6 separate regions of the Homo sapiens genome follow, and all the other regions are reported to be linked to region 4. The links are microRNA targets in miRTarBase. Many come from high-throughput screens and were not tested one by one. Region 4 holds a microRNA gene; each other region holds the end of a gene's coding sequence.
What was found. Region 4 holds the annotated microRNA hsa-miR-3665 (AGCAGGUGCGGGGCGGCG, at 3,091-3,108, opposite strand). A microRNA usually pairs through its seed, bases 2 to 8, with sites in the 3' UTR of a target mRNA and lowers its output. Matches are read on the target gene's strand: a 7mer-m8 pairs with bases 2 to 8, a 7mer-A1 pairs with bases 2 to 7 and ends in A, and an 8mer does both.

Region 1 (5,075 bases), not on the chromosome of region 4:
TCATGGAGCTGTATTCCCAAAGTTTTTATGAAAATATTTGTGGTTTTATAAATGAATAACAGCAGAGTGTAGAATTCTTGGGTCCCTCTTTCTGAGGACATTTTAATCACGATTTATTTCACTGTTGGTGATGTGCCTCTTTGCCAAATGTTCCCCTTCCATTTGTTTCAACCAGGAGAGCATTAGTCCCACATTTTTGCTTGACTCATTTCCACAAATCTGCTGTGAGTAGCCCAGGCTCGTTTCTGCTCATCTGGATTTCTGAAGAGAATTTCAGGTTTTCTTGCAGAGGATTTTAGCTTCCTGTCTGAAGTGAAGACATAGTGAGAGCAAGTTTTGGTGAGCACATACAGGCTGAGCACTCCAATTCTATATCTCCCCACCAGGTTACCAACATCAAGAAGACACTCAAAGCCACCGCATCCTCCTCGGCTCAGGAGATGGAGCAGCAGCTGGCTGAACGGGAGTGTCCCCCTCACGCTGAGCAGAGGCAGCCCACCAAGAAGATGTCCAAAGTGAAAGGTCTGGTCTCCAGCCGCCACTAGGGCCGGCTGGGGCAGCTGGCACTCACCAGGCCTGGGTCAGGTGGGGAGGGGACACCAAGGGCCCATTTCCTCCCCTCTCTACCTGCAGTGAGTTCCAGACCTGCCCGTCCCCTCACCAGCGCCTCCCCACCCTGTTGGTACTGTTCCAGAAAAACTGTTACTCCCCCTCACCCACTCCCTCCTTCCCCAGTTGTTCCCTTCAGACTCAGGGGCTCCACCAATGCCATCCCAAAACAGGGTCAGACACTGCCCAGCTTCCCTCCAGGAGGTTCTTGTCTCTGTGTAAGGGCTTGTCTCCCTCCCAGTTTTTCTTTTGCTCCACGTCATTTTGTCAGGCTGGTTATAAGCCGGAGGCAGCTTTAACCAGCCCCCAGGGATGATTGTGAAGGAGGCCCCTCCCCTTGTGAGGAGGGGGCACTCCTCTCCAGCCCCTGGTACCACAGTCCTCACGATGGTGCAGTGATTTCTAGCCAGGCGTCAAGATGCGCTGCTTTCCCTCTCCTGCCTCATCCCTTGTTGGCAGCTCCAGTTCAGGCCGTGGAGGGACGTGATGCTGGGCTGTGTTTACTAAACCCACGGGTTTTCAGCCTCTTAAGCCCAGCTCCGATCTCCAATTAGTTGAGAGCGCTGGGTTGACTAACCTCTGGTATCTGAGCACAGACAGAGGGTGCTGTGGGTCTGCTGGGTGGCAGAAATGGTTCCTTCCGGCTTGGCGTTCTCTCCTGGCCACTCTTCCTGCTGCCTCTGACTACTCAGCCTTGTTTTCGGTGTGTAGGCCCCAGCTGCCCACTGGAACTGCCGGCTAATGCTTGCTCTCCCAAGATCTTTAACTCCTCCTGGCTGCACCTGGGTAGGGATGGTGGCATCGATGCCCCTCTGTCTGCTGAAGGACCTGTTGCTGCTTCTGTCTTTTCACCCCTCCTTGGCTGATGACCCAGAGCCCTCTGATGATGGCATTCTCCTGGCAAGAGAAAAAGACTTAACTAGACTTCTGAACTTGAACAGTTTCAGGTTATATTTTAATTTTTTTTTTTTTGTACAGGTTCTGATTCTAATACATTTCAACATGCTTTTGTCCCCCCTCGTGTCAATATTTGTTATAGACTAATCGCCGGGGATTTTTCACCTGGTTGGAGGGTGGGGGTGGGGTGGGGTGTGTGTGTGTGTGTGTGTGTGTGTGTGTGTGTGTGTGTGTGTTTGTAGGTCCTGGACTGATTAAAGTTCATTGAGGAAAAAGCACATTTTACAACAAAAAAATAAAAGTGTAGATTTAATGTATGTGACTGGGGTTTGGGGTTGCATACCTGGTGGATCTTGAGGGGCTGGGATTAGGGTGGTTCAGGAAAATGTGATGCTGTTTCCCCATGTTTAGCCATGGTCAAAAAATGGATTTCTCCTTTTTCTAAAATGTCCAGCAACTGCCTACTGTTGATCAAATGTTGAAGTATTCTTGTTTCCCTTTTAAGCCAATCCATGTGCCCACATAACATTATGCCCAAGTGGAGAGTTCACTTTAATTTCCAAAGTATGTTTCATGCAGCCCCCTGTCAGCTGCTCTGTGGAAAAGGGGTTCTGTTATGAAATAAATGTTGCACTCCCTGCATCCCATATCCTCATTGGAAATTCATTACTCAGGTGTCCAAGCATTCCTTGTTGAGGAAGCCTGTACCCACATCGATTTTACCGCCAAATCCTTTTGGGTAATATCTAGGTGGAACAAATCTTAGGGAAATTTTGGGGAAAGTATATTTCTGAAGAAGCCTAAGAGTGCTGGGCGCAGTGACTCATGCCTGTAATCCCAACACTTTGGGAGGCTGAGGTGGGAGGATCATTTGAGCCCGGGAGTTTGAGGCCAGTCCACACAACATAGTGAGATCCCATCTCTGCTACAAATAAAACCCTAAGAGAAGCTGAACACCTTTCAACCTTACAGGTTTTCCCAGCTATTCTTTCTAGACCTCAAACAGTCACTCTCAGCAAGTTTTCTTTCATTCTTGTTTTTCCCACTGGCAAGTAGACTAGGAAACATGGTTTGACTTGTATGAAGTCTGTGACCATTCTTTATTTGATTGCCCCAAGGCCCTAAGGGTCCTCTCCATGATTCACCTTCCTTAAAAATAATGATGGCGACAATAATAACTTGTCTCTAAAGTGCTTTACAAAGTGTGTTTGCATACAATAAGTCATTCAGTCCCTTCCACCCAAACAGCCTTCTGAGGTTGGTAAGGGTATTCAGCCATCTTCGCTTTGCATATGAGAAGACAATCTCAAAGATTTGAAGTGTCCCAGTGGTAACTGGCAGAAGGAGAACTCTTAGATCTCCTGACTTGCACATCCTGTCATCTGCTGTGTTACATTCTCATCTAGAGTCTGCTCTCCACACTTGATCCTTGCTACCCCTCTACCTGCTGCTGTTCCTCTGAGAGTTCATCTTGCCTTTATTTTGAGGGAGGGAGGGGCAAGCCCAGTGTTAGTGTTGATTTTGCCCTCAAGGACCCTGGCGGGGAAGCAGTAGTGTTCCCATTGTAGAGGCCAGAAAAGCTGCCCAGTGACACAGCCAGGATCAGTCATGGAGCCATGATAGGCCAGAGCCTGAGCTCCCAGCCACTGAGGAGGGGTGGCAGAGGATTGTTTGGCCAGGTCTGTGTGGGCTGAAGGCTTGGTGACCAGGGACGACATGATCATCTGCAAGACCAATGCTATCACTGCCCTGAGGATGTTCTTCCCCCGAAAGTTTGCCTCCAATAGCACAGGCACCTGCGTCTCAGATGGTGGTGACATCTGAGTACTTGGACTTCATCAGCTGCCTGTAGGAGGTGAGGTAGCAGGAGGTGAGGGCAATACTCCCTTCAGCTTCAGCAGGTGAAAAGTGTGGTTCTCAATGAAGTTGAGCTAGTGTGTGCCAGGTCTCCTTCTACAGTGGGTACGCGTCATACAGGATCCCATCAAAGCGACCACCTGGCAGGGGAGCGCCACCTCCTTCCACAGGACTTTCAAGGGGATGACCTTGTGTGGCTGCTGCTGGGTCCAGTCCTGGAGCAGCTGGAAGATGCTGTCATTGCACTCCATGATCCAGTGTTCCTGGATGGCGACCTCCTGCACCTTCCATATTCTTGTGGCCATGCCGAAGCCCACCTCTAAGACTCGGCCCCCTTTGGAGGTGGTGAAGGCAGCGAAGGGGGTTGCAGTAGGGGCGCTCTTGCTGCAGATGGAGCCCCAACTTGGAACCCGACGTGCCAGGGCCCAGTCCCTGCAGCCATCTCACTTTTCACATACCTCATTTCTGCTTGCCAAACCCACCCAGCCACTTAATAAGGAAGCAGAGAGTATGGGATAGAGAAATTGTGGGAATAGTGGCCCAGCCAGATGTTCATTGCTCCACTGGGACTCTGATAGGAGGCTTGGCCTTCAAGCTCTGCAGTTTCCTGTCTGGCACCCTGGCAGCTGGGCTCAAGTCTAAAATGTGCAGAAGTGTTTTATAGATAAATAGAACATTCCAAAGAGATGGCCTCATCAGCAGTGAGACATCTTAGGGAAGGAGACACCACAGTATTAAAGAGAATTACCTCAATGGCAGTGCCTGTGAGCTGGCTTGAGCCACCTTCTTTACCTCTGAGCTTTCTGCCTTCTGAAGCCCTTTTTGCTCTTTCTGTTCAGATGAGAGGCATTATGGTTCCTATTTGGGTAACATTAGGGAGGTGGTCAAAGCCCCCAGTATAGCCCATTCCTGTAGTCCTAATCCAAGATGGTCATCACTGATAGTAGGATTCTCCTCTCCCCATTTCAGTCACAGGAAATGGGGTGGTGACCAAACAAGCTCAAGTGATAAACTGCTGGTGATATGTATATATGTTTGTTGTTTTCTCCACCTCTGAGGTGCTGGGTTGCCTGATACCAAAGTGTTCCAGTTTGTGTACTAAAGTTGTTTTTCTGGCAGCCTGAGACTTCGCTTTTTAAAAAATGCAGCAATTGGTTGATTTTTGTTGTTCCTGAAGGACCCATCACACTACCCACGGTATCTGAGTTTCAAGTCTAGCATGGCTTGGGTAATCTGTGATTGTACCTGTTTCTTCCTGGGATTCTGCACATAGCCAGGAGCATCTCATTGCTTCATTCCGTGTTTTCTTGCAGTTATGCCTGGGATATGCAGATGGAAATGCATATTTTATTGTAAATTTCATTTTATATCTAGCTTATATTACCCTTAGGGCATTAAGTGGGTCTTTTAAACTTATGTCTGTTAAGTAGGTTGTCTGTGACTTGACGTCGGGCAGTAAAGGTAGATGCTAAGCAAGTATTTATTATCAAAAGGAAATGTTGAGTCAACATTAAGGGTGAGAACTGCTCTTCGTGGTTAAGGATAAAACCAAGAAGGAAAGAAGTGATGGGAATGCAGAGACAGGAGGCAGCCCAGCTCTTCTTGGGGTTGTTTACGCCCATCCTTGCGTTGGTCTGCGGCGTTTCCCCAGCAGACACCACTGTGGGCTACTCTAATGACTTCTCTTTCCTCCTCGAACAACTTCTGGAGAA
Region 2 (5,075 bases), not on the chromosome of region 4:
GACTGAATAAATTAGAAAGTGCTTTGAACTGGATGAAAACAAAAACACAGCATATCAAAATGCATGGGTAGCGCTTAGAGAGAATTAAGGCAATAAATTATTTCATTAGAAAAGAAGAAACATCTCAAGGCAATGATCTAAGCTTCTACCTTAAGAAAACAGAAAAAAATGAGCAAACTAAATCCAAAATAAGCAGAAAGAAAGAAGTAATAAAGAGCAGAAACAATGATATAAGAGCAGATAAATAATAGAGAAAATCAATAGAAACAAAAGCTGGTTCTTAAAAAAGATCAATAAAATTGATAAACCTCTAGGTAGAATTATCAGGAAATAAAAAGACACAAATTATCAAATCAGGAATGATAGTAGGGGCATCACTACAGATTTAAGAAACTACCATCAGAGTGAACAGGCAACCTACAGAATGGGAGAGAATGTTTGCAATCTGCTCATCTGACAAAGGGCTAATATCCAGAATCTACAATGAACTCAAACAAATCTACAAGAAAAAAACAGCCCCATCAAAAAGTGGGCGAAGGATATGAACAGACACTTCTCAAAAGAAGACATTTATGTAGCCAAAAGACACATGAAAAAATGCTCATCATCACTGGCCATCAGAGAAATGCAAATCAAAACCACAATGAGATACCATCTCACACCAGTTAGAATGGCGATCATTAAAAAGTCAGGAAACAACAGGTGCTGGAGAGGATGTGGAGAGATAGGAACACTTTTACACTGTTGGTGGGACTGTAAACTAGTTCAACCATTGTGGAAGTCGGTGTGGTGATTCCTCAGGAATCTTGAGATATAAATACCATTTGACCATTTCACCCAGCAATCCCATTACTGGATATATACCCAAAGGATTATAAAACATGCTGCTATAAAGACACATATACACGTATGTTTATTGTGGCACTATTCACAATAGCAAAGACTTGGAACCAACCCAAATGTCCAACAATGATAGACTGGATTAAGAAAATGTGGCACATATATACCATGGAATACTATGCAGCCATAAAAAATGATGAGTTCATGTCTTTTGTAGAGACATGGATGAAGCTGGAAACCATCATTCTCAGCAAACTATTGCAAGGACAAAAAACCAAACACCGTATGTTCTCACTCATAGGTGGGAACTGAACAATGAGAACACATGGACACAGGAAGGGGAACATCACACATTGGGGCCTGTTGTGGTGAGGGGGGAGTGGGGAGGGATAGCATTAGGAGATATACTTAATGTTAAATGACGAGTTGATGGGCTCAGCACACCAACATGGCACATGTATACATATGTAACTAACCTGCACATTGTACCCTAAAATTTAAAGTAAAAAAAAAAAAACATTAAAAGGATAAATAGAGTTTTCAGCAGTATGAATTCTTTAATTCTTTAGTCTTCCAAGGCCTTTACCCTGAATAAATTGCCTTCCCACATTTCTTACATTTCCAGGTGTAAGCTTTCTGTAAGGGAATATTACAAATAGGTCCTAGGGCAACCTGGTGACACCATGCTTTCATAACCTTCCATCTGGCTGACATCAGCTCATTAATCAACAGTTTTTAGACAGGATCATTTGACAACATGTTCTGTTGAGGTTGCTGGTTTAGCTCTCTGTAAACTATGGTCTGGCTGGGCTGGTGAGGGACTCAAGCCTGAGCAGCCACCATCACTACACTTGAGAAGTTCCTTGAGAGATTCAACTGTTTCTTCCGGCTGCTAGGGTCATGCTACATTCCACTTACGTTTCTGCCTTCCTGTCCCATGCTTTGGCAGATCATCAGGCTTTCACCCCTAATCTCATCTTCCTTGTGCCCACCTCATCCTGTCCTCTAGCAGTCTTCTCTGGGAATGGTGTCCTTGGGTGCTGTGATGTTTAGAAACTGAGTGGTCCTATTCATGGTAGCCAAACTTCTTACCTACTTTTTCAGGACTTAAAAGGTTATCAGAGAGACCTGAGGGAGTGCTTTTTGTCTCTCTGAGGACTTCAGGCTTCTCTCCCACACCTCCCTCTCTCCCTCAGGCTTCTCCCTGCACCCTCAGGCAAGCCAGAGATTTCTGGGGCTCAGTCGAACTCAGATGGAGAAGTCACTGTCCATTTTTCCCTTTTCTCAGACTTCCAGGAAATTTACAAGTCAAGTGATTGCCTTAGGAGGTGAGGTGAGGGGATAACTTTATGGAAACTGGGCTTCCTTTAAATGCTCTCGTTATGAGCATATACTTACCTGCCAGGCACTGGTCTCAGCTCTTACAACATATCAGTGAATAACACAGATGAAAATTTATGGTGCTCACATTTTGGACGGGCATGTTCAGTTGGCTTTCTATACTCTACATAGACTCTGTGTGTGCCATTTGCTGCAGGTTTGTGTGTGTGGTGTTGGGGGCATCATGGTGTTGCACTGCCAGTTGTGCTGAAATGGTTTCTCTCACCCAGTCCTAAAGAAGGGATTGGCCCCTAGAAACCTGCTGCCCTTCTAGATGAGTCAAAGCAAGTGCCCTCTTGATTTTCCCAGTGAGACCCTGCCAGCTCACTACTTTATGGTACCTCTCTGGCTCTGGTCAGCTGGAAGGCAGATAGTCTTTGGAGGCAGGGAACCAAGGTGACAATCATGCTGCTCCTGGAGGCAGGCAGTCTTGTTTTGACTACCGGCTTCTTGGTCCAGCTGAATGACAGTGGGCGAGTTATCTGAGCTGCAAATATTACCTCAAAGGATTAGTGGAATGAACAAATAAAATAATTAACTTTAGCTTATCATGGTGGCTGGCACTTAGTAAGTCCTCTATGAACAGACATTAGCTATGTTTATCGATATCTTCAACATTATCATTATTTGTATATTTCAGACAGAAGGGTAGCAGGGGATATAGGTAGGTATGGACATATATACCAATATGTAATATATATATAATCATTTCAAGGTAACATTGTTTTATTCCCCTTGGTAATTCCTCAAAATATTTTATATCCTCTCCCCTCAAAAGTTACTCCTTTTATGTATTGTTAATTCTGTTGATATCAGGGCCTATTTTCTCTTTTTCTGTCTTCTGAGTTGAGGTTTTTAGATATAATTCTTTTATTTCATTTCTATATTTTAATATTCTACCAGCTATTCAAGTCCATTTTTTTCTAGACTATATTAATGTAGCTACTTGGAAAAAAGATTATAACATTTTAGAAATAAGACTAGTTGTGTTGCAGGTATGTGGAGAGCACACTTTGTTTTTGAGACAGGATCTCACTCTGTTGCCCAGGCTGGAGTGCAGGTACAGTCAGCAGTCATAGCTCACTGCAGCCTTGAACTCCTGAGCTTAAGCGATCCTCCCGTCTCAGCCTCCCAAGTAGCTGGGACTACAGGTGTATGCCCATGTACAAATTTTTTTGCAGAGATGGGATCTCATTATGTTGCCCAGGCTAGGAGCAAACTTTTAATAAAAGGACTTGTGTACTCTTAAATTGAATTTTATGATTTTGTCCTACTGTTTTTGCTGTGATATCCTCAATGATTCCCATAGAACACACAATAATGGTAATAATAACCTACAGAAGCCTCCTCTCATGTACAATTTTATTTTTCTTTTAAGGAGATAAGGAAGGGGAAAAAGTAGTTGATTTCCTGTGTTTCTTATTTAGAAAAAATTAAATTATACTGCATTTTTCTAGTATTCTGTTAGAAATTTACTTTATTAAACCTTGATAACTTCAGCTATAAACCTAAAATATTCTTCTTATACTGATAGACCAAACAAAAGGGCTAAAAACAAATCTATCATCTAATTTAGATTATATGTAAGTTAGTAAGTCTCTTCAAAATAAAGAAAGGTAGTTTTAGGACAGAGATTTTTATATAGATTGAAAGTTATCTTCCCTGGAAGAAAGGTGAATCTGAGAATCTAGCCGCACTTCAAAAATGTGTGCAAGTGTTTATTTGGAATCCCTTCTATTTTATTAGAAACAGAAACAGTAATTTCACCAGTAGGAATTGCGTGTGCTCTCAATACAAGTAAGTTTGCCACTCCTTCAATTGTTGTCCATTGCAGACACTTTGGATTCAAGGTTAAGAATCCAAATGAGAAATAAGAAATATCCGGTCCCTGATGATTCGTTTAAGTCCTGTTCAACTCGATGAAAGCTTCCACCCGAAGGAAGAGTTACTGTTCCTCCTGGCTGGCTTTGTGTTTCTTTCAGTGCTCTAAAGAACTTTGTATTTGGGCAGCTGTGCTCTGTCATGTCAGGCTGCTGGACAGGAGTTGATGCTTACGGCGCCGCTGACCAGGGCTGCTTTACTGAAGCTCACTGGGTGTCCATCAATCACAAAGTGGCGTATGCAGCCTGTGAAGGGTTTGCTGGGGGCCAAGCGTGGTGTCAGTAGAGATTCTGAAAAGAGCAAGAAATAAAAACAAAGATTGCAATTGAGGTATTCCAAGCCCAAATATTACTTCCTGGTAAAAGTATACATATTTGCTCATATCATCAATATGATTTACATTTCAAAAATAGAACATAGTTATAATTGACTCATTTCTCAGTAACATTATTTGCTTGTGAAGTCCTATGGACATGTGGTAATTTTAACGTTTTGCCATGTTTTCCATGATCACATTTCTGTGTATTGTAGCTGTCTTTCAAGGCTGAAATTTACCACTTACATGTAAAGCCTCAGCAGTGAATTTTCATGATCTACCTATGTTTTTTAAAGTTAATTTCACCTGGGCCTCACTTATAATGTGTACTTTGCTAAGAAGGAGGAAAGAAATTTTAGCTTCCACACTATTTTTGGACTTGGTTAATATTTCTGTTTAATTCATTACCCTTCACCCTTAAGCCTCTACATTTTTGCCTGTTCATAAAATATAATGAGAAAGTAATGAATTCGAATAAACTAAGATTCAATTTTTCTGAGCTCAGGGTTTAAGAACTATAAATAGGGTAATGATAACTCGCTTAGTCTTTGTGTGGGCACAAGTGCCCTGTGGTATGCCAAGGGAACTTTCTCCTCTTAATTAGAAATCTAGAAGAAGCCTTATGCTTATTAATTGTACAGACACAATTAAATGTGTT
Region 3 (5,075 bases), not on the chromosome of region 4:
CAATTCTGTCTCATTGGGGTTCCAGGTACCACTAGGGTATGAAGAAAAACCTCCTGCAGCTAGCATAGTGTCTGCCTGAACAGCTACACAGTTTTGTGCTTGAAACCCAGAGGCCTGGTGGTGTAGGCACATGAGGGAATCTCCTGGTCTGCAGATTGCAAAACCGTGGGAAAAATGTAGTATTTGGGCTGGATAGCGCAGTCCCTCATGGCTTCCCTTGGTTGGGAAAGGGAGGCCCCCAGTCCTTGCATTTCCCCGGTGAGGCTGTGCCCCACCCTGCTTCTGCTCACCCTCTGTGGCCTGCACTGACTGCCTAACCAGTCCCAAACTGATGAACAGGTTACCTCAATTGGAAATGCAGAAATCACCCACCTTCTGCGTTGGTCTTTCTGGGAGCTGCAGACTGGAGCTGCTCCTATTTGGCCATCTTGGCAGCAGATCCTACAGCGTTTTACAACCATCATCACTACCTATTTCCAAAAGGTTTTCATCACTCTAAAGAAACTCTGTAATCATTTAATGATAACTCTGCCTTCTCCAAGTCCTTGTTATTCTCTACTACTTTGTCTAATCTATGAATTTGCCACTTATGAGTAGAATCATATGATATTTTTCCTTTTATGTCTGTCAAATTTTACTTAGCATACTGTTATCACTGTCATTCCTGCTGTAGTGTGTATCAGAACTTCATTCTTTTTATGACTGAATAATACTCCATTATCTGTATACCACATTTTGTGAACCCATTCATCTGTTGATGGACACTTGGGCTCTTCAACCTGATGACTACTGTGAATAGTGTTGCTGTGAACTTTGGTTTACAAGGATCTGTTCAAATCCTTGCTTTCAAATCCATTGGGTATACATCCAAAAGTGGAATTACTGGGTCCCATGGAAATTGTGATTTTATTTTTCTGAGGAACCACAAATTGGTTTTGCAAATAGGCTATGCCAATTTACATTCACCAGCAATTCATAAGAGTTTCAATTTCTCCATATTCTGTCCAACATTTCATATTTTCCATTAAAAAATAATTATAGCCTTTCTAAAGGATATGAAGTGGTATCTCACTGTGGTTTTGATTTGCATTTCCCCAATGACTAATGAAGTTGAGCATCTTTCCAGGTGCGCTTATGGATCACTTGCATATCTTCTTTGCAGTAGTTTCTGTTGAAGTCCTTTGAATTTTTGAATGGGATTGTAGTATTTTGTTGTTTTGTGTTGGAGTCCTTTACATGTTCTCATTTGATTTGTGAATATATTCTGCCATTCTGTGGGCTATCTTTCAACCCTTCTATCCATTTTTTTTTTACTTTGTATATCGTGTATGTAAAAGTTCAACATCATTCTTTTACATAGAGATATTCAGATTCCCCCTCCTTGTGCATCTTCCCTATCTCATTGATCACTCTGAGGTCTCCACCTCTCCAATTGCAATGAGACTTTCACTTACTTGATTCGCTTCCTCTTCCTCTTTTCAACCAGGTATTAGGGGTAGTAATGGGAGTGAGTGCCCACTGTCCTGTGGTCTTTGAGCATGGCCAACATGAGCCCTTGTAAATCCCCTGATGCCAGGGGACTGGCTGGCCATCCTGTCCATGATGTTCCCAGGTCACTCTCCTCTCCGAGTTTTTCCATCTCCCTCCACTCCTGGCTGACCACCGACTGTCCAGCCCTCCCCTTTCCTGCCCATTCTCAGAGCAGGACTGAATTAATCCAATGACCGGGGAACTCAGGGGACTTGGAGGGAGGTCCTAGTTGCAGGCAAAAACTAGAAGAGAAGCCCTTTCAGAGTAACAGAATGAGCTTTCAGACCTCAGGCAGAGGAAATTCTCTCTATGGCATCCAAGGTCCTGGGCTAGGAGTGGGCAATTGGTGGGAGGAACATTTGGGTTCAGATTTAGGAAGAGAAGCAAGGTCTGCATTAAGAGAGGCTGGGACAATCAGTGACACTATCCCAGGGGTAGTACATGGGGCCCGGGTGCTGGAACAGGGCCCAGGGTCAGCAGTACCAGCACCCAGGCAGTCACCAAGTGTGGACAGGGTTGAGGATGCCCCTGCCCCATCAGGGTGGCCAGCCAGAGAGGCAGAGGACAACCAAGAAGTTGGTTCCCAAGAAGTGCTGTTGGGAAGGAGCTGCTTGGGGTCTAACAGCCTCTTCCACCAGCCAGACCCATTTGCCTACCTGGGCTCCTCCCACCCCTGACTGGACAGCTGCCCACTCCATGAGCTTCCTGAGAAGCCTGCAGGTTCCATATATGAAGGAAGTTGACAGGTACCTGGTGACGTTGCTAGGCTGGGGTCTCTTTCTGCACCTCACTGGGACTGTGGAGAGCTGAGTTTACAAGGTCCTCATGACAGACCAGGCCTTTGAGGCTTTCCTGCTCAGCTCAGTGCAGCCTCACTATAGCTGGGATGTGGGATGTTCCCAACCAAACTCCTGAAGCCTTGATCCCCAACACAGTAGTGTTGGGAGGTGGGTCCTAGTGGGAGATATTTAGATCGTGGAGACAGATCCTTTATGAAGAGATTAGTGACCCCTTCCACCTCACAGGCTTGAGTTTTAGCTGTATCTGGAATGGACAGGTTTCCAAGACATCGGGATCAAAACAGAGTCTTGCTTCCTTAGTCTCTCTCCTGCTTCCTCTGTCACCATGCAATCTCAGCATATGCCACTCCCTTTTTGCTTTCTGCCATGAGTGGAAGCTGCATGAGGCCTTCATCGGATTGAGCTGCCAAAACTTAAACTTTTCAGCCACCAGATCATGAGACAAATAAACCTCTTTTCTAGATCAATTACCCAGCCTTGGGTATTCGGTTACAGTAACACAAAACACAGCAAGACAGGCTCTTAGCTCAGCCTTGCTGTGATTCATCTTGAATCTAAATCTTGAATGGAATGGAGGCCTGGAGTCTTTTCCCTACAGGTGTGAGCTTCTCCCTCTGATCTCCTAGATAAATATCGTTTGTCTAAACTCAGCTACCATGGGAGCCCCAGGAGCTGGAGAGGGTGTGGGCACCAGGGGAGACATGGTATGAGGCTGTGTGCAGGGGGATGGATCAAATCAGGCCCTGCTAGGGTTCTGGCACCAATGGGCACACCTCATCTCCGTTTTCCCTCTTCAGTAGGGATTTATCTCCCTGCCTTAGTGTCTCCTCTTCTAACCCTATCACCTTCCATGTGAAGCTAGACAAAGCATGCAAGCTTGTGAACCTTATTCTAGAGAGGAGGGAAGATAGAGGGATTGTCTGGCTGACAATCATGTACATAGGTAGGTAGCATACAGGAGAGATTTAGATGGACACATCAGATGACAATCAGGTAGGGGCTGTGCCAGGATGAACAATGGGGTCTCCATGTTGTCCACATCCTAATTCATGAAACCTGTGATTGTGGGACTGCATATGTCACAATGGACTTTTGAGTAAGTAACGGATCTTGAGGTGGTGACATTATCTTTGATTATCTTAATAAGCTTGATGTAACTAACCACAAGGGTCCTTATAAGAGGGAAAGAGATGTGAAGACAGTCACAGAGAGAGAGATTTGAAGATGCCATTGGCTTTAAAGAGGAAGGAGGGGACAGTACCAGGAATGCAAAAAAAGGCAGCTCTGGAGCTGAAAAGCCAAGGGCTCTCCCTGAAATCTTCTAGGGGTGGGGGTTTGGCCCTGTCCAGAACTTGTTTTCATCCAGTGAAACCCATATCTGACTTTGACCTCCAGAACTGTAAGAGAATAAAAAGCTGTTATTTAAAATCACTGAGATTGTGATAGTTTATTACAGCAGCAATAGGAAACTAATATAGGAACAGACAAGCAGGCAGGAAGAAGGAGACAGGTGTATGGGCAGACAGTCTGGAGGGCAGGCAGGAGTTTGGGAGGTGGGTGGAGATTCAGGGATGTTGGGGTTATCGGACCCAACACCAGGTTGTGGGGGTGACAAAGTCCGGCAGAGTCAAAGGAATGAGAAAAGACAGTTTGAGAGAGAAAGTGGGTCCAGGGCGCCAAAGCTAAGTATGGAGGCTGTGAAGGCCCCGAGCTCTGGAAGTGCAGATTATTTATTGGTGATCAAACAAAGAAACAGGTGGTGAGAATGGGGGGTGGGTCGAAAGGGCATGTTGCATTAAGCACATGATTTACAGCTGTGACGGTTTAGCATCTGCTCTGTTACTTGAGATAATGGAGAGCAGGTTCTTTTAACTCAAGATACAATTGATCCTGGGAGAGCAAGGAGCGAGGAGCCAGCAAGTCCAGACACATTCCAGAGCCACGAGCCCTGGATTCTATCCAAGCCACGAGGGGTTTTATGCCCCGGGCTTAGATTATGGTGCGTCAGGGTAGCCTTCCACCCTTCAGCACAGAGCTTGGTGTTCCAAAGGCCACAAGGGGTTTTAGACCCTGGATCCTGGACATGATTCAAGACTCTTTTACATTATGTCAGACATGCAAGCTCGGCCTCAGCTTCTCCCAACACTCAGCTTTTCTCCCAACAAGATATACAGGTGGGTAGGAGACAGGTAGACAAGCAGGTAGGGAGCTTGGAGAAAGGTGAGAGAGAGAAGGGCAGGCAGACTGGGGGACAGCAGGCAGGTGGGAAGAAGGGAAGGTGGGCAGACAGAAAGCAGGACAGAGGCAGACAGGCAGGAGATAGGAGTGGGGGTCAGGAAGACAGGATGGCAGGTGGAGGCCCTCAAAGCTGGTCCTTGTCTTCACAAGGGTTAGGGAGCCTCCTGAGACGCAGGTGGATTCCATTTTTGGATTTCAACACAAGTCGTGCCATGGGGATGGGGATCCTGGTGGGATCAGGCAGCAGCTCAAAGCGGAGCAGGGTCAGGGCCCTGGCCACCTTCAGCTGGTTCATGGCAAATTGTTTCCCGATGCAGTTCCTGGGCCAGGCGGAGACAATGAATTGAGACGTGTCCTCAGGCCCCATTCTGATCTGAGCAGGTTTTGGCCCCTGACCCCAGCCCTGAGCTGGACATTCAGTGCCCAACCTCATGTGTCCAGCCCCTGCACACTTACAGCCCACGGACACTTCTACCCCATCCTGGCTTCACACTGTCCCAAACCTTG
Region 4 (5,075 bases):
AGGCTGTTTCTAGATTTCCTTTGAGAATTATTTTTATATACTCAAGAACCTATGGGTGCTTTTGCGATTCTGTTGCTGGATCTATTTAATGTTCATACACAGTATTAGAAATATATGTGAAAAATACAAATTAAAATAAGTTCATGTGCTTTCTTAAAATTCACTAGAGTGATGATAGTTCTGAAGTGTAATGAATAGAGAGAAACATGCATTTCTTTATCCAGTTTTGAATGTGTGATATGTGGATGTTTCACATTACCTTATGGTGTATCAAATGTATGCTTAAAGCATAAACTTTTAAATGAGACATGCACTTTCATTTTTCATATCCTCTTTGTAAACCTCTGAAATCACCTACATATTTTATTTAAAATCAAAACATTACAATTGAGCAACTACAGCATGCAATTTCTTTCAAAACACAAAGCTTACTAATTTGCATCAAAATAAAAAAATCAAGACTGCTTAATTAAAACCTTGACACCATCAACCTCTTTAATTATACGTTAAAGAGACTGGCATCCTGGGGACACCAACTTGAAATCAGTGTGCATTTTGAGTGTCTCTGGTGTGTGTACATGTGCAATTCACAGAAGGGAAAAAAAGAGGGGCATTAAGAGAAAGCAAAAACATGATTTAAATTTTCTTTAGACATTAATAATTTCACACTTTTAAAATAGGTAGGAAAAGGGCAAATTTGTCTTTTCAGAAGAATAATGCAGACTAGAATTGTAAAACAATGTTTCATCTCTTTTCTATGTCTAAATTTCAATGCATGCTTTCTTTTTAAAGAACAAAGATTTTTATGATAATTATTACTTAGAAAACAGGGTTCAAAAGCTTGGCTACTGCTTGTTGGATGTATATAGACCATATTGGGTAAATGAAGGAGGAAAGGGCTGTCTGTTTCTCTCCTTCTTTAGAGTGTATATAAATTGTGCAGTAAAATGACGGCTTTTCTTTACATCTTAATTCTTGTTGTCTTCACTATTATGTGCCTATTCCCAATTTCTTTCTCTAGTCTGGGACCCAGCAGCTCTTTGTTCTCATTGTGTCTGTCGTCTCCCTTTCTTTGTGTTGCAGGGAGATACTGCTACCCGCATCTGCCACTGAGCATGCGGGAAAAATCCTTCAATAGATTCTTTACTTAGGACTTTCAGTAGTATTACTCCATTTCTCCAGGTTTTGGTAATAACCAAAAAAAATCCTAAAGATATACCGAAACTTGGAAAGGTGATGGGTGATACAGGTGGTTAGGTGGTGGGCTAGCAAGCTGGGACACAGGGAAGGTTAAGGGAGTCATCACACGCATTTAGCTAATTTATGGAAGCGCTCACCAAGCATGTTAAATGCAGAACATCCACCCTGCACACAGAAGCTAGAGATGTAGATTAACAACTGAGAAGATACAAGTGTTTCTGAGCAGGAAGACACAAAACCATATCTGAAACCAATAGATACGATGTGTTAGCAGCTCCAGAGAAATGAGGTACATTGTCACAAAGATTGGTATGTAAAGTCCCTAGCAAGGACTTTCACTAGATAGTATATCATCTGAGGATGAGAACCAGTGGTGTAGATTTTTCTCATAATATAATCTCAGGTTTTCCTCTGATTGTGTTAAACACTCAAAATGCTAAGTCAGTCAGTATTCATTGAACACAACTCGATTAAATTCTTCTGCTTAAAAGCCTCTTTTAAAAAAAGCAGATTTGCTCGTTTTCCAAGTGGTAAGAAATAGCAGGTTTGCAGGTGAGATTAAAGTGTATTGGGTAGAATTCTGAGGTTTTCTGTTTTCTGCTTTCCCACCAGCAAGTCTGACTTTAATAACTTACACATTATTTAATAGAAGGAGCACTAAACAATTTTACTCATATTTCTCCCCATAACCATTTTTGCCTATTGTACTCATTGCCCGCATCACGAGCTCTTAGAATGGTTCCTGGCACAGAGTAGGTGCTCAAAGATCTTTTGTTTGGGGAATGCATGAATATACATAGTATGAAAAAAAAAGCAGTTCTTCTTTTATTGTGACAAACAATGATGGTAACAGTTCAAATTTGACTATTTTAGAATAAATAAGTAAACACTTGTCTCCTTAGCAGCTGGCCACTCTACCTCTTAGAGAGAGGGCTTTCTTCTCTTTCTTCTCGGTCTCCTGTCTCCCACCATTTTGCTTCTCTATTACCAATGAGAACATGAGTGGCATGGTCCCAAAGCCTTTCTGTTCCCCCTATCTCCACTTTTCGGTTTTTAGAATAACGATCCCCAGCCTTTAAGTTTTCTATAGGATTCGTTAGCCAGTGGCTATTAAGTGCTGTCACGGAGCCTAACAGAGAGCTGGGAAGGGAGCAAACCAGCGGGCCGGTGGTGCACTACTCGAGGGCCAGCACCTGCAGCTGCTTCTTTGGGAACCCCCTGGTCCCCGCAACCGCCTCAGAGACCCGCGCAGTTCACTGTCCCACCAAGCGGCAGGAGGAGGTGCTTGTGGCGGGAAAGTTCAGGCCAGGTCCAATCAGGCCCCTGGGATTAGGTAGCGAGGGTGGGTGCGGCTCCCCGGCCCCAACCCGGGCTGCCGGCCCCGCCCCCTGGGTGGGCTTCCCCACGGTTCTCCGCCCCCCCCCCCCCACCCGCCCCCTCGGCGCTCTTGCCCCGCCCCGCTCCGGGGCCGCGGCTAAAACCCGGAGCCGCCGCGACGCCCAGGGGACTGGAGGGACGCACTGAGCATGTGCAGATCAGCTCGGTGGTGGCTGCCGCGGCCGGAGGCGAGGGCCCGGTGCTGATGCGAACCGCCGGCTCGGCCTCAGCCCGCGCGTGGTCGGCCCCCCAGGCCGGGGCGACAGGGAAGGAGCCGTAGCCTCCCCGTGGCCCGAGGAGCCGGCGCGGCGGCGCGCACTCCCCGGCGGCCGCGGCGCCCTCGGGGCCCACGATGATGGCGGAGCAGGTGAAATGCGCCTCGGCAGGGGTCAGCTCTGGAGCGGGCTCCGGGCCGGTGGTGAACGCGGAGCTGGAGGTGAAGAAGCTGCAGGAGCTGGTGCGCAAGCTGGAGAAGCAGAACGAGCAGCTGCGGAGTCGAGCGGCCAGCGCGGCCGCCGCCCCGCACCTGCTGCTGCTGCCGCCGCCGCCGCCCGCCGCGCCGCCCCCCGCTGGCCTGCAGCCTTTGGGTCCTCGGAGCCCCCCGGCCGCCACGGCCACCGCCGCGGCCTCAGGGGGCCTGGGGCTCGGGCTGGCGCTGGGCGCGGGGGGCGGTGGCGGCAGCGGTAGTGGCAGCGGCGGTGGCTCCAGCCCCGCGTTCCCGGGCACCTTCTGCCTGCCTAGCCCCGCGCCCTCCCTGCTTTGCAGCCTGGCGCAGCCACCCGAGGCGCCCTTCGTCTACTTCAAGCCGGCAGCAGGCTTCTTCGGCGCGGGCGGTGGCGGGCCGGAGCCGGGGGGCGCGGGGACGCCGCCAGGGGCAGCTGCAGCGCCGCCCTCGCCGCCCCCCACGCTGCTGGACGAGGTGGAATTGCTGGATCTGGAGAGCGTAGCCGCCTGGCGGGACGAGGACGACTACACCTGGTACTGCCTGGCTCCGCTCCTTCCCCGAGACCCTGGCCTCGGGGGCTTCGGGCACCGGGGAGCGGGGGCGGGGGGCGGACGGGGGTCCCCTCGCGGCAGCCGGGGTGACTCCCCGCGGCTCCCGGAGGGGCCGACCCAGCAGGTGTTGAGCCAGGCGGTGACACTTCCCACGATGAGGCTTCTCATGAAGGCAGAAACCTGTTTTCTAATCGCTCCGACTGCGGATGAACCGGCCCCCCCTTCCCCCCATCTGCCATGGGTTCTGCTATTTGCTGATTGTTGGGTCCCAAGCTCCTCGTTAGCATTAAGTGCAAAATCCATGTCATCTTGTCTTTTTGCTCAGTGCTGCTCTTTTCCCCAGTGTTTTCGGAGGGATGACGGGGGATGGTAGGGGTTGGCCTCTGTCTGCGACTGTTACTGTTCTTTCGTTTTAAACGAACGCTGGACAGGATTTGCGTGCTCTTCCTCCTCGGGTGGCATCGGAAGCCGCGCAGTGATGGATCTCTCTTTATAGAGAGGTTCGTTCTTGCTGTTTGAATTTTGCAGTCGTGTGCCCTTTTGCGTTGCATTTTCATTGAAATCTTATTTTCAGAGACTGACTTGCTTTTTAAAATGGGGTGACCTCACTGGCTTTCCCATAAATAGTGCCAATAAAGAGGACTTTTCTTGGAGTGGAATGAACAGGTGGGAGGGACTTTTTTATTTATTTATTTATTTTTTTACCTAGGAACCAACGAACTGTCTTTAATTTTTTAAATTAAACTGTAGAAGAAAAGTGAGATTAGAGAAGCCTTATTTTCTTATTTCTTGGAAACTTTTTAGCTTGGTTATCAGAAAACTTGAGGCTGACAGCATTTATTCAGTTGACATCTGGTTAGCACTGTCTACTTTCCATGAATGAGTAACTTTAGGGGGAGGCTTGCTGTAGTCCTTCTTTACTTTAGGTCCTTTTTATGTAGGACCCTTTCTGTTTTTCCAAGCTGTGTTTTCATTACTTTCTTTGTGTCTCTGTTGCATGATTGCATGGAAGGGATTGGGAAATGGAGATCCTTACTGGTTTCCTATTGGGAACTGCAGTGTTCCTTTTCCCTTACACTCTGTCATGTGAGAGCTCTAACTGTAAAGTACATTAGTTAATTGGTTTCATTCAAGAATCAAAATATATGGAGTTACAGTAAGCCTTTCAGAGGTGTATTCATCATCCACCTTAATACTTTTTGGCAGCTGTGCAGGTAGCTCAAGGTGTAAAAAAATCAAACAACTCATCACTTTTGGGAACTTTAAGCCATTTTTTCAAAGCTGCACCCTTATTTCTGTAAAGTAATCTCAGTTTCAGTCTGAATGTGGTACTAGAAAATGCTCTCATGATGGTCCTTAGATTTCACTAATAACTCTCAGCCCTTATGCCACTTTCAAATTATTTTAGGTTGATTTAGTCCCTACTTAGCCTTTTCTGATGGTATGTATGTAAACAGTGGAAGGAAACTTGTTTACATTTTTGATGGGGAGATATATGGGAT
Region 5 (5,075 bases), not on the chromosome of region 4:
ATTAAAGCATTATACTTAGGCCTAATTGTTATTGACTAAACAAGAAAATAAGATGTTAATCCCTAACAGATACTTCAGTTGTTAGAGACTTCATATTTTTGGAAAACTATTGAAAAGTTTAAGAAAATCCCACAAACTTTCAATTTGGAGTTCTCATTATCTCATTAAATGAATAGCACTGCATATAATTAAGCTCCCAAGCAGGTTTAAGATTTGGGAGATGTGCAAATACAGATCACCATGTGTTCATTCACTATTTGGTAGTCCCTCAGAATGGATTTCAGTGACTCTGTGTTTTAAGAACTCTTAAAATTCTCCTCCCGTTTTTTTGGCAGAGAGCCAATGAAACATTACGGTATTAGTTCATTTTCTTCTTGCTTGTCTTGCAGTAGTTTATAATGCACTGTGTTATTGAAGAACAAATGTATGAACATATCTTGGAAATAATATTTGTCAAGCATTAACTCAAAGATCTTTACTACCTTTACAGAAAAAAAAAATAGCTCTTTTCTTTTTCCTTTTGCAGGAGAAAAACCCTACAAATGTACATGGGAAGGGTGCACATGGAAGTTTGCTCGGTCTGATGAACTAACAAGACATTTCCGAAAACATACTGGAATCAAACCTTTCCAGTGCCCGGACTGTGACCGCAGCTTCTCCCGTTCTGACCATCTTGCCCTCCATAGGAAACGCCACATGCTAGTCTGATTGCCTCTGTGTCCTGCCTCAGCGTGACTCCCCACTCACCTGGCTCTCTCTCTGTCCTGCCTCCCATTATCTAACACATTTTTTACATGTACATTTTAATTTGATTCAGCTGGTCTGAATCTCTGAATTTATATCATCCAAAACTTCCATATGGTCAGTAGTAGATGTTCTCTAATCCTCCCTCTCCTTACCACGGGTCAGACCTAAAGAATGTGAACACTTTTTTTTTTTTTTCTGGGGATGCTAAGCAAACCCTTCTTACAGATACGTTTAATGTAATAAGAACAAGGGAACATGTAAACTAACATAACCAATTGTCAGTTCTCCATGTATTCCTCAAAAGAATGTCAGAGTAAATGTATTAGAAATACAGTATCCAGACTGCTAGTCCTTGCCAGAGACATTCTTACCTCTGCCCTGTGATAATATTTTATGCTTGACAGTGAAAACAAGTGTGGCCCCTTGCACCGGTTAGCTAGAAGTACAGCCAGATTTCAAGCTAGTGCAGTCACCTCTTCCGTCATTCTTCACAAATCTTGTCAACCTGGATCTTAGACTTCATCTGAATCGAGTTCTTTGCCCTCCTTTGTGCCTGCAGCTCATATGGAGGTCTTTGCCACCAATGGGAGATGAGCCCAAACTTTCGATCTAGGTGGGTGATGTGTAGCAGTTCAAGGGAAGGGTGCTGTGTTTTCATAGCATGGAGTCGGAGGAGAGGGCCATTTAGCAGGGGGAGCAGAAGAGGCAATTCCTCCTGGGCTAGGGGTTGTCAGTGAGGTTTCAACATTTTGTTAGCTGTGTGCAGCATTCCCAGAGCTTCAGTCTCTGTGCATACTCAGCTTTGTAGAACCATGCTGCAAAGCCATATACCGATGGGGTTATCCATGCAACTATCTCCATTCCTACAATGTCCTTAATATGAGATCATCAAACATTGATAGTAGGGACTCCATGGAATATTTGCCCAGTAATGGTAAGAAATCTTTCGGGTAAGAGTATGGATGGTTCTTCTTTTACCCAATCTGCTTATAGCTTTTTTTGTAAACAGGGAAATGTTGAGTGGTACTTGTATTCCCTTATCAAATTAATCACATAGCTTTTATACAGAAACTCTTCCTGTGTGAGCTGTTAAGGTGCCAAATTGGCTGTCATTTGTATTCATGACACATACCATAAAGCATCTGCTAATGCTTTAATGGATTGATTCAATTAAGACCTGAGTGACACTATTTGTAAATATAACTAGTTGTGAAGCACACATACCTTTATTTTGGGAATTTATGAGAAAATATAGAAAACCACAGATCAGGGATTCATATATGTAGCTCAAAAATTCCCAAAAGTTTACTGTTAGAGTTGGCAATTTCCTATCACTATTTCAGTGTCAGAACAAACTGAAAATAATGGCTCGTGTTTATGTTGAAGATAAATAGCACCATTATTGGGGGAAGTTATTCAAAAGCAGGCTTTTGAGCACCATAGTCTAAATGCCAATAAAAATAATTCATACATAGAAATGTCATTGGTCCTGAATTTGAAGAAAGTGAGCAACAGTAGTTAAATGTGGGTGCATATAACCAAATTCCCCTTCATCAAGAATGGAGGAGAAGAGAGAAGAATGAAATCCTGAAGATTCATCCCAGCCGCAACTCAGGATCCAACACAACTTTAACTGGGAGGAATACATTGTTTGATCATTTTTAAAACATCTGTGAATGAGTGATTCCGGAGGCCTGTGAATTGTGTGGGGAGCTTGCTTTGATGGCACTGTGTTAATAAAAGTTGTAGGGACTGTGCACCTAAGAGGCTAAGAGGTCCCACTCATCCGCCCTGTGAACCAGCTGTAAAGAAATGTAGTTAAGAAATGCAAAGAAATGTGTTATCTTGGCACTTGGGTTTGATTTTCCTTTTTTTAAAGCACTGCAAAACTTCTTTAGGATACTAAAACATCCTAATTGGGCTGTTTTTTTGTTTTGTTTTGTTTTTCAGCTAAAGGCAAAGATAATTTTTTTTTCAGCTGAAGTTTTTCTTTTTTGCAACTATGACATGAATTGAGTGATAAAATGGCTCTTTGAAAAGTAGATATTGTCTGTATTGTAAATGCTTAGTCATATTCATGGCAAAGTGTTCATTTCTTGAGATGGTTCTTTCACAACACACAAGAATCAAGATGGAACGCAAGGAAAATCTTTTTGTTTTGACCGAGGTAACCAGTTTATGTGTGTTCCAATCCATAGAGAAGTGGGGGAAAGGGCGAGAAAGGATCAGATTGATCTGGGATCAGCTTTGAGCCTGAGTTCAGTGAATAGCCTCATGGGCATCTCATGGAATTGATGCATTTGCTGTGGCATATTTAAATTTTGTTCAAAAGATTTGAAGCAAGACCTTGCAAAGACTCTTAACATTACTGTTCAGCTTGCTTAGATTGTGTTAACAGTTCATTTAACAAAGATCCGTTTTAACTCTGAACAAAAGCAACCCAGAGCGGCCATTCTCTATTCCCATGCTGGTCAATACGCTTTCATTACCAATTGGCCCTTACCAAACTTTTCTTATATATATATTTGTATTTTACTATGATAGTTGAGAAATTTAGCCTCTTAGTCATTTTTAGCTGTTATTGTGGAAGACCTCAAATACAAGATTAGATGCCCTTGAACATGTTTTAATGATGTGTGTCATGTTACTATCAATGGTGATTTCAATCGCAATATTTTAAATTGATGAGAATGATTTGTAAACATGAAGTTACTATTACGTAAATTCTGTTTGTTATAGAGTTTCTTCAGTTGTTACCCAAGTGTCATCCTAGAGAAGTCAGAAGAATCAGAATCCATCGTATTTTAGAGTTATGTGAATCTACATCATAAATGGGCATTAACATTCTAAATTGCTTGGTTTGGAGAATGTGTTAGCAGCATAGCTATATTCAACTAGGGAGATGCTAAATACACAGAAGTTTCAAGAGCCTTGGAACAGAATTACAGGGGAACTATATATGTATATGTATATTTTATTAAACACCCATCTGCACTATCAGTATTGCACTAATGTGGAATTTGAAAGACTATTTTGCTGATACTGTATATATGCGCATCATTCCTGATTAGATTGTTGTAAAGACAATCTGAAAGATCTAAGGTTTTAAAATAATTTGGTTTGAAAATATACAGTTGTCTTGAAGGAATTGCTGTCATACATGAAGTTGCTCCGAGCTGTCTTTATTCTCTTCTTGGTCAAGGTTAACAATTGCTAAATGATCGCAAATTCACCTAAACAATACATTTACAAAGCCATCTTTACATGCATTAAACGAGGGCTACAACAATATTGTTTTACAAATACTAGCACTTTTTTTTCTGTTATGTACTTAGTGTTAGAGGGTCAAAATAATCTTTCTGCTTAGCATCTCTTAAACCATACCTGCAAATATAGCAGGATTATTACATTTACAGTACTTTAATACTTGTATAAACTATGCAGAAATTTTTAATAAAGTGTAATATATTTTATAAGCTAATAAGACTGAATGGGTAAAGGTTTTTAGCATGCATTAGTATACTTGCAGATACTGAAACATTTTGGTAATCTTTCTTACTAAAGATGTGAATGTTTAATGTACCTTCTCTGTTTCTACTCTGTAGTCCAATGGGAATTCAGTAATGACATTTTGTCATGTCAAACTGTGAACATAAATTTGTACTGTACAGTCCTCATATACTATATACAGTATGCAATATATATTATATACTTGTTAATAAAACCATCAGAATATTAAATGTGATCATGTGATTACTTCATATGCAGTGATCACTAGAGCAAAACTTACAGAGCAATGTAAGAACCCTTGCTTAGAACATTACTTACTCTGATGGGCAGTTATTGTTGATGGAGGGACAGAAAAATAGATCTAACTGGAAGATGAACTACCGGAATTAACTCAGCCCTCAAGCTATGTCCCTGGTTTTCTGAAAACAGCCAACAGGAAGTCTCCTAGGCTGAAATCATAAAACTGCAGACAATCCAGCAAAAATCTACAAACTCACCTAGTTCATTCTTGAAATACTTCTTGTATTTGTTATTTATGAACCCCTGCCTGCTTCCAAAAAGAACTTGCAGCATTTTGTATTAAAAGACGCATGTGTATAATACTTTAAACTTTTAGAGTAAAATATCAAGACTCTCATGTTGGGGAGTGGGGAACGAGGAACAGAACAATAACGCATTAAAGTAAATAACTCTGGATAAAAGTAATTATTTTTCAAGCCTTTAGTAACCATGTTCATGGACACTGCATTCTCCAGCATCACATGAAGAAGAAGTAGTTTCCGATAGGGATTTAGAGTTGAGTTTTGTTTTGTTTTGTT
Region 6 (5,072 bases), not on the chromosome of region 4:
TCTTAGCTTCCAGCCTATTCCTTCACTGGGCAAGCCCCTTCCCCTTACTTGGGGCATTTTCTCCCTTTGAAGCTTTTTCTGAATTTCTGTGACATGTCATAGTCTATACTGCATTATTTAGTACCTGATTACATAATCTCTCATTGGTACCTTTATTGTTTCAATTATGATTTGCTTTTCAGAATCTTCTTGAGGGTAGGGACCATAAACGTAGTGCTGACACTTAACACCTATGGATTGAGTATATCTACTTTTATAGAGAGCTGAAGCCAGTGTTTATCTTGGGAAATTTAGAATTCAGACATTTTTTCCATAGCCATTATACAGTATAAGTAATGGTTAAGTAAAACCAATACTTGAAAAATCAGATGATGAAAAAATCTGGAAGAACTATGAGAATTCATGTACTTTACAAAAATAGCTATTCTGTAGTTGAACAATATTAACAAAATTCTGATTAAAATATTAGATATTATTTGTATGTGACTTACCAATACTGAAAAATGAAATGAAGTTCTACACCCAGATCCAAAGGAGTCTTTAAGGCACATATCTCACACGCACATGTGTTAATGTGGTATTAGACACTTCTCTGCTTTTCGGGGTCCCTATAATCAGTTTTAATTTTCTTTACAGATGTTTCTATACTTTGAAGATCATGGACTAGTGACGTGCTCCGCTGATCATCTCATTATTTTGTGGAAAAATGGAGAGCGAGAATCTGGATTGCGCAGTTTAAGATTATTTCAAAAATTAGAGGAGAATGGTGACTTATACCTTGCTGTCTAGTTTAAGGAATTAAAAATACACATGCATGAACCTTGAACATCAAATATCGGGTACTACTCTGAAAACCATTAATATATTGATCACTTAAATTGGTAATTTTTTTTGTCAGTCCATAAAATTCTACATGTTTAAATTTTTTGTGGACCTACCAACCAGGAACATGTTGCTTCTCAGGTCCTAGTATATCCTCCAAAGAATATACCACAAGTTTTTCCATTTGACTTTGAGCTGCTGTTGAAGTGGTGAGTGCTGTGTTTTGAGCTTATTTTGAACCTAGATCCTTGTGAAAGGTACAAATAGAGGTAATAGTTAAGTTATGGCATTTATTAGAAGTTTTATTATTTGGCTTCCTTTAGAATTATTGTGAAGTTTAAAAATAGCCTTTCTCCTGCAAATTTTCCTAGTCTTTAGTAACTGTTAGTGTTCTATATAGCACAAACTTGAATCTCTCAGCCAAAAAAGGGAACATATATACTGTTTAAGTATGGCAAGTTTTCTTTGGTACCAATTTGTTTAGATAATTTTAAAAATGTTTTTTAGTTCTAGCTACTAAAACCTGTATGAACTCAAATGGATAGGCATCTTGTGAGGGTGTGTTTTTCCCAGTGTGAATTGGCTTGAAGAGCCATGGGCTAAATGGGTACTAGAACAACAACTGCCCCTCATGTACGCCAAGGATGAGCTCTAGATCATTTGAGAGGCACAGTGTTTCCGGAGTCAGGGACTGCAGCTGAGCGCAACTGCCCCATCTGACCACTGACTCAAATACGAACTGCTTGAGACAGACTTCTTTTATGTAGTTCTTTGCAGTGTCCATTGAGACACTATAACCAGCCTTGTAACAATATGTTTTCTCCTTTTGGTGCTAAAAAATGAAAATATTAGAAAGTAGTCTACACATTAAAGATTGAAATTCTTAAACTACTGATGAAGAAAGGGCAACGTGACAGATGTTAGCAGACTGACCCTTCTTACAGAAAACCTACAGATTTATTTGTTCATTATACAAATATACTACAAATATACCCTAAAGGGAATCTCCATAAGTTCTTTTACTAGTTTTAGCTTTGACAGTTGCTTCCACAACTACCTACAAAGACTGGAAGAGTTAAGGTCATCTGAGTAGACCAGTGGCATAATGTTACAAATGAGGAAACTGAGGCCCAGTGCAGTAAGGCCTTGCAATTAAATCTGTAGTGCCCAGTATCACCAAGCAGCTCTAAAAACAGGAACTGAAGACTGAATGAGAAAAGGCTTATATGACTACTTTAAATCCAAACAACATTGAGTCATGAAAAGTTCTATGGAGAAATATTAAAACTTAAGCTACCTCAATTACAGAAGACTTTCTCCCATTATTCACGTGCTTTTTCCTTTAGAAATTCTGCATTGGCCCATACATTTGTAAAGTTGTTTTCTGAAGTTGTATGACACAAGGGAGCCATAGACTTAACTGTTTTACTTCCTAGCCTGTTCTAGGCTAGTATTTTGTGATAGTAATCTATTCAAATGGAGTGGTAGAAATCACATGAATTTTGGAAGCAAATGGTACCGTAAGTACCACAGCAAATTCCTTCTGGTCATTATACAGGCGTACCTCAGAGATACTACAGGTTAGGTTTCAGACCACATCAAAAAAGCAACTATTGCAAATAGAGTGAGTCACATCTAGTTTTTGGTTTCCCAGTGCCTATAAAACTTGTGTTTATACTACAGTCTTAAATTTCTAAAAAATGTACATACCTTAAGAATACTTTATTGCTAAAAAATGCTAACAATCATCTGAGCCTTCAGCGAGTCATAATCTTTTTGCTGGTGGAGGGTCTTGATACTGCTGGCTGTTGACTAAGGTGGTTACTGAAGGTTGGGGTGGCTGTGGCAGTTCCTTAAAATAAGATAGCGATGAAGTTTTCCAAATCAATTGACTTCCTTTCACAAATGAGATCTCTGTAACATGTAATACTATTTAATAGCATTTTACCCACAGTAGAACTTCTTTCAAAATTTAGAGTCTGTCATCTCAAATCCTGATGCTCCTTTATGAACTAAGTTTATAGAATATTCTAAATCCTTTGTTGTCATTTCAACTATGTTTACAGCATCTTCACTGTGGAAATGACTGTCTCCAGAAACCACTTTCTATACACATTCTTAAGCAACTTCTCATCTATTAAAGTTTGATCATGAGATTACAGCAATTCATTCACATCTTCAGGCTCCACTTCTTCCAGACTCCTTTTAATGCTGGAATTTTGACCGCCTCCCATGAATCAGAATGTTCTTAGTGGCATCTAGAATGCTAAATGCTTCCCAGAAGGTTTTCAATTGACTTTGCCCAGACTCTTCAGAGGAATCACTAGTTAGGGCAGCTACAGCCTTATTAAATGTATTTCTTAAATAAATAAGACTTAAAAGTCAAAGTGACTCCTTGACCCATGGACTGCAGCATAGATGTTGTGGTAGCTGGCACGAAGACAACATGAACCTCCTTGTACATCTCCATCAGAACTCTTAGGTGACCAGGTAACATTGTAATGGGCAGTAATATTTGGAAAGAAATTTGAGCAGGTCTCAACCATAGGCTTAAATATTCAATAAACCATGCTATAAACAGATATGCTGTCATCTAGGCTTTGTTATTCCACTTCTAGAGCATAGGCAGAGTAGATTTAACATAATTCTTAAGGGCCTTAAGATTTTTGGACTGGTAAATAAACTCTGACTTCAACTTAAAGGCACCAACTACACTCGCTGGCATTGAACTTCTTCTCCCCAGCTATGAAGTCCTAGATGACATCTCTTCTAATAGAAGACCATTTCATCTTCACAAACTCAGTTGTTTAGTGTAGTCGCCTTCAGTGATCTTAGCTAGATCATCTGGACAACTTCCTGCTGTTGTTGTCCCTTGCACTCTGACGTTAATGGGGATAGTTTCATGAACCAACCTCTGCTTGCTTCCAGCTTTTCTTCTGTAGCATCCTCACCTCTCAGTCTTCGAAGAAAGAATTGAAGAATTAATTAGGCTTTGGCTTAAGGGAATGTTGTGGCTTGTTTAATCTATATAGACCACTCAGACTTTCTCCATCTCAGCAGTAAGGCTGTTTCACTTTCTTGTTTGCATGTTCACTGGAGTTAACACTTTCAAGAACTCTTCCTTTGCATAACTTGGCTAACTGGTGTAAGAGGCATGGCTTTCACCTGCCTGGGCTTTCAACATGCCTTCTTCACTAAGCTTTATTATCTGTAGCTTTTGATTTAAAGTGAGAGACATGTGACTCTTTTACTTGCACATTTACAGGCTACTGTAGGTTATTAATTGGCTTAATTTCGATATTGTTGTGTCTCAGGGAATAGGGAGGTCTAAGAAGAGGGAGAGACTGGAAACCGCTAGTTGGTGGAACAGTTAGAATATACACAAGATTTATCAATTAAGTTCACTGTCTTATACGGGCATGGTTTGCAGTACCCTAAAACAATTACAGTAGTAACAAAGATCACTGATCACAGACCACCATGACAGATACAAGAATAAAAACATTTGAAATACTCTAAGAGTTACCAAAATGTGACACTTACACAAAGTGAGCCCATGCTGGGAAAATGCCCCGATAGACTTGCTCTATGCAGGGTGGCCACAAGCCCTCAATTTGTAGAAAAGGCAGTATCTTTGAAGCACAATGAAGCAGAATGCAATAAAATGAGGTATACTTGTATTCTAATTTTCTGCCATGAAAAACTGTCTAGAGGGCAGTCTCCAACCCTAGGGACTAGATTGCTTTTGTTTTCATGCATGCCCTAAGGTCACAGAGATGGGGGATAACAGTATGATGGGAGATTCTGGTAGGGACTCAAACCTGATGGTGTTCAGTAGTTGCAGGTAGACTGCTGCTAAAAGTTGGACTTTCAATTTAGAATAAAATAATGGGTCAATGTATATTATGTACATTTTCTCCATTTCCTGAGTTTAGCTTTCAACAGTTAAGATACTTGCAACAGCAGAAGTAACACTACATAGTGTTACAGTGTACAAATCCCTTGTCATTTTTATTTTAAAATATATTTATTACCTCAGTCTCTGGCTATATTCACATAGCGCAAGGGCACAAGATCATCCCTTCTGTTTCTCTCTCTAAAGCTGAGTAGGTTCTGAGTGAACTGACAGGCTTGTTTTTTTTTTGCCCAGAATGCTAACCAGTCCTGACATGGAGGGCAAGTAAATTTAAAAATCTTAAATTAGAAATAAAGAATGATCTTAGGAAATTATAGGGTCATTCTGGTCCAGC

Region 1: the mRNA of COPS7B is a reported target of hsa-miR-3665. Seed matches in the 3' UTR shown: 7mer-A1 at 626-632.
Region 2: miRTarBase lists LAMA4 as a target of hsa-miR-3665. Seed matches in the 3' UTR shown: 7mer-A1 at 3,276-3,282 and 7mer-A1 at 3,211-3,217.
Region 3: the mRNA of CYP4A22 is a reported target of hsa-miR-3665. Seed matches in the 3' UTR shown: 7mer-m8 at 4,679-4,685 and 7mer-m8 at 4,589-4,595.
Region 5: miRTarBase lists KLF3 as a target of hsa-miR-3665. Seed matches in the 3' UTR shown: 7mer-A1 at 4,130-4,136.
Region 6: miRTarBase lists WDR41 as a target of hsa-miR-3665. The part of its 3' UTR that is shown has no 7-base or 8-base seed match.

What each region holds. Positions count from the first base shown.
Region 1 is chr2:231,807,101-231,812,175 of GRCh38, forward strand. COPS7B (COP9 signalosome subunit 7B) reads left to right here. Exons shown (of 7, transcript NM_022730.4): 7 at 387-2,153. The coding sequence ends at 545. It also overlaps the pseudogene GAMTP1. Among named protein-coding and RNA genes, the nearest start is that of COPS7B, 23 kb to the left of the region's middle.
Region 2 is chr6:112,105,192-112,110,266 of GRCh38, forward strand. LAMA4 (laminin subunit alpha 4) reads right to left here. Exons shown (of 39, transcript NM_001105206.3): 39 at 2,740-4,391. The coding sequence ends at 4,246. Among named protein-coding and RNA genes, the nearest start is that of FAM229B, 20 kb to the left of the region's middle.
Region 3 is chr1:47,148,415-47,153,489 of GRCh38, reverse strand. It overlaps CYP4A22 (cytochrome P450 family 4 subfamily A member 22), which reads right to left. Exons shown (of 12, transcript NM_001010969.4): 12 at 3,763-4,888. The coding sequence ends at 4,693. All of the region lies in intron 5 of CYP4A22-AS1 (CYP4A22 antisense RNA 1), which reads left to right. Among named protein-coding and RNA genes, the nearest start is that of CYP4A22, 14 kb to the right of the region's middle.
Region 4 is chr13:77,694,985-77,700,059 of GRCh38, forward strand. It overlaps MIR3665 (microRNA 3665), which reads right to left and starts at 3,132; the gene lies at 3,028-3,132. It overlaps SLAIN1 (SLAIN motif family member 1), which reads left to right and starts at 2,703. Exons shown (of 7, transcript NM_001242868.2): 1 at 2,703-3,555. The coding sequence starts at 2,930. RefSeq lists silencers at 2,461-3,020, 3,221-3,460, 3,621-3,770.
Region 5 is chr4:38,696,556-38,701,630 of GRCh38, forward strand. It overlaps KLF3 (KLF transcription factor 3), which reads left to right. Exons shown (of 6, transcript NM_016531.6): 6 at 527-4,962. The coding sequence ends at 708. Among named protein-coding and RNA genes, the nearest start is that of KLF3-AS1, 34 kb to the left of the region's middle.
Region 6 is chr5:77,428,852-77,433,923 of GRCh38, reverse strand. It overlaps WDR41 (WD repeat domain 41), which reads left to right. Exons shown (of 13, transcript NM_018268.4): 13 at 637-2,991. The coding sequence ends at 789. Among named protein-coding and RNA genes, the nearest start is that of WDR41, 61 kb to the left of the region's middle.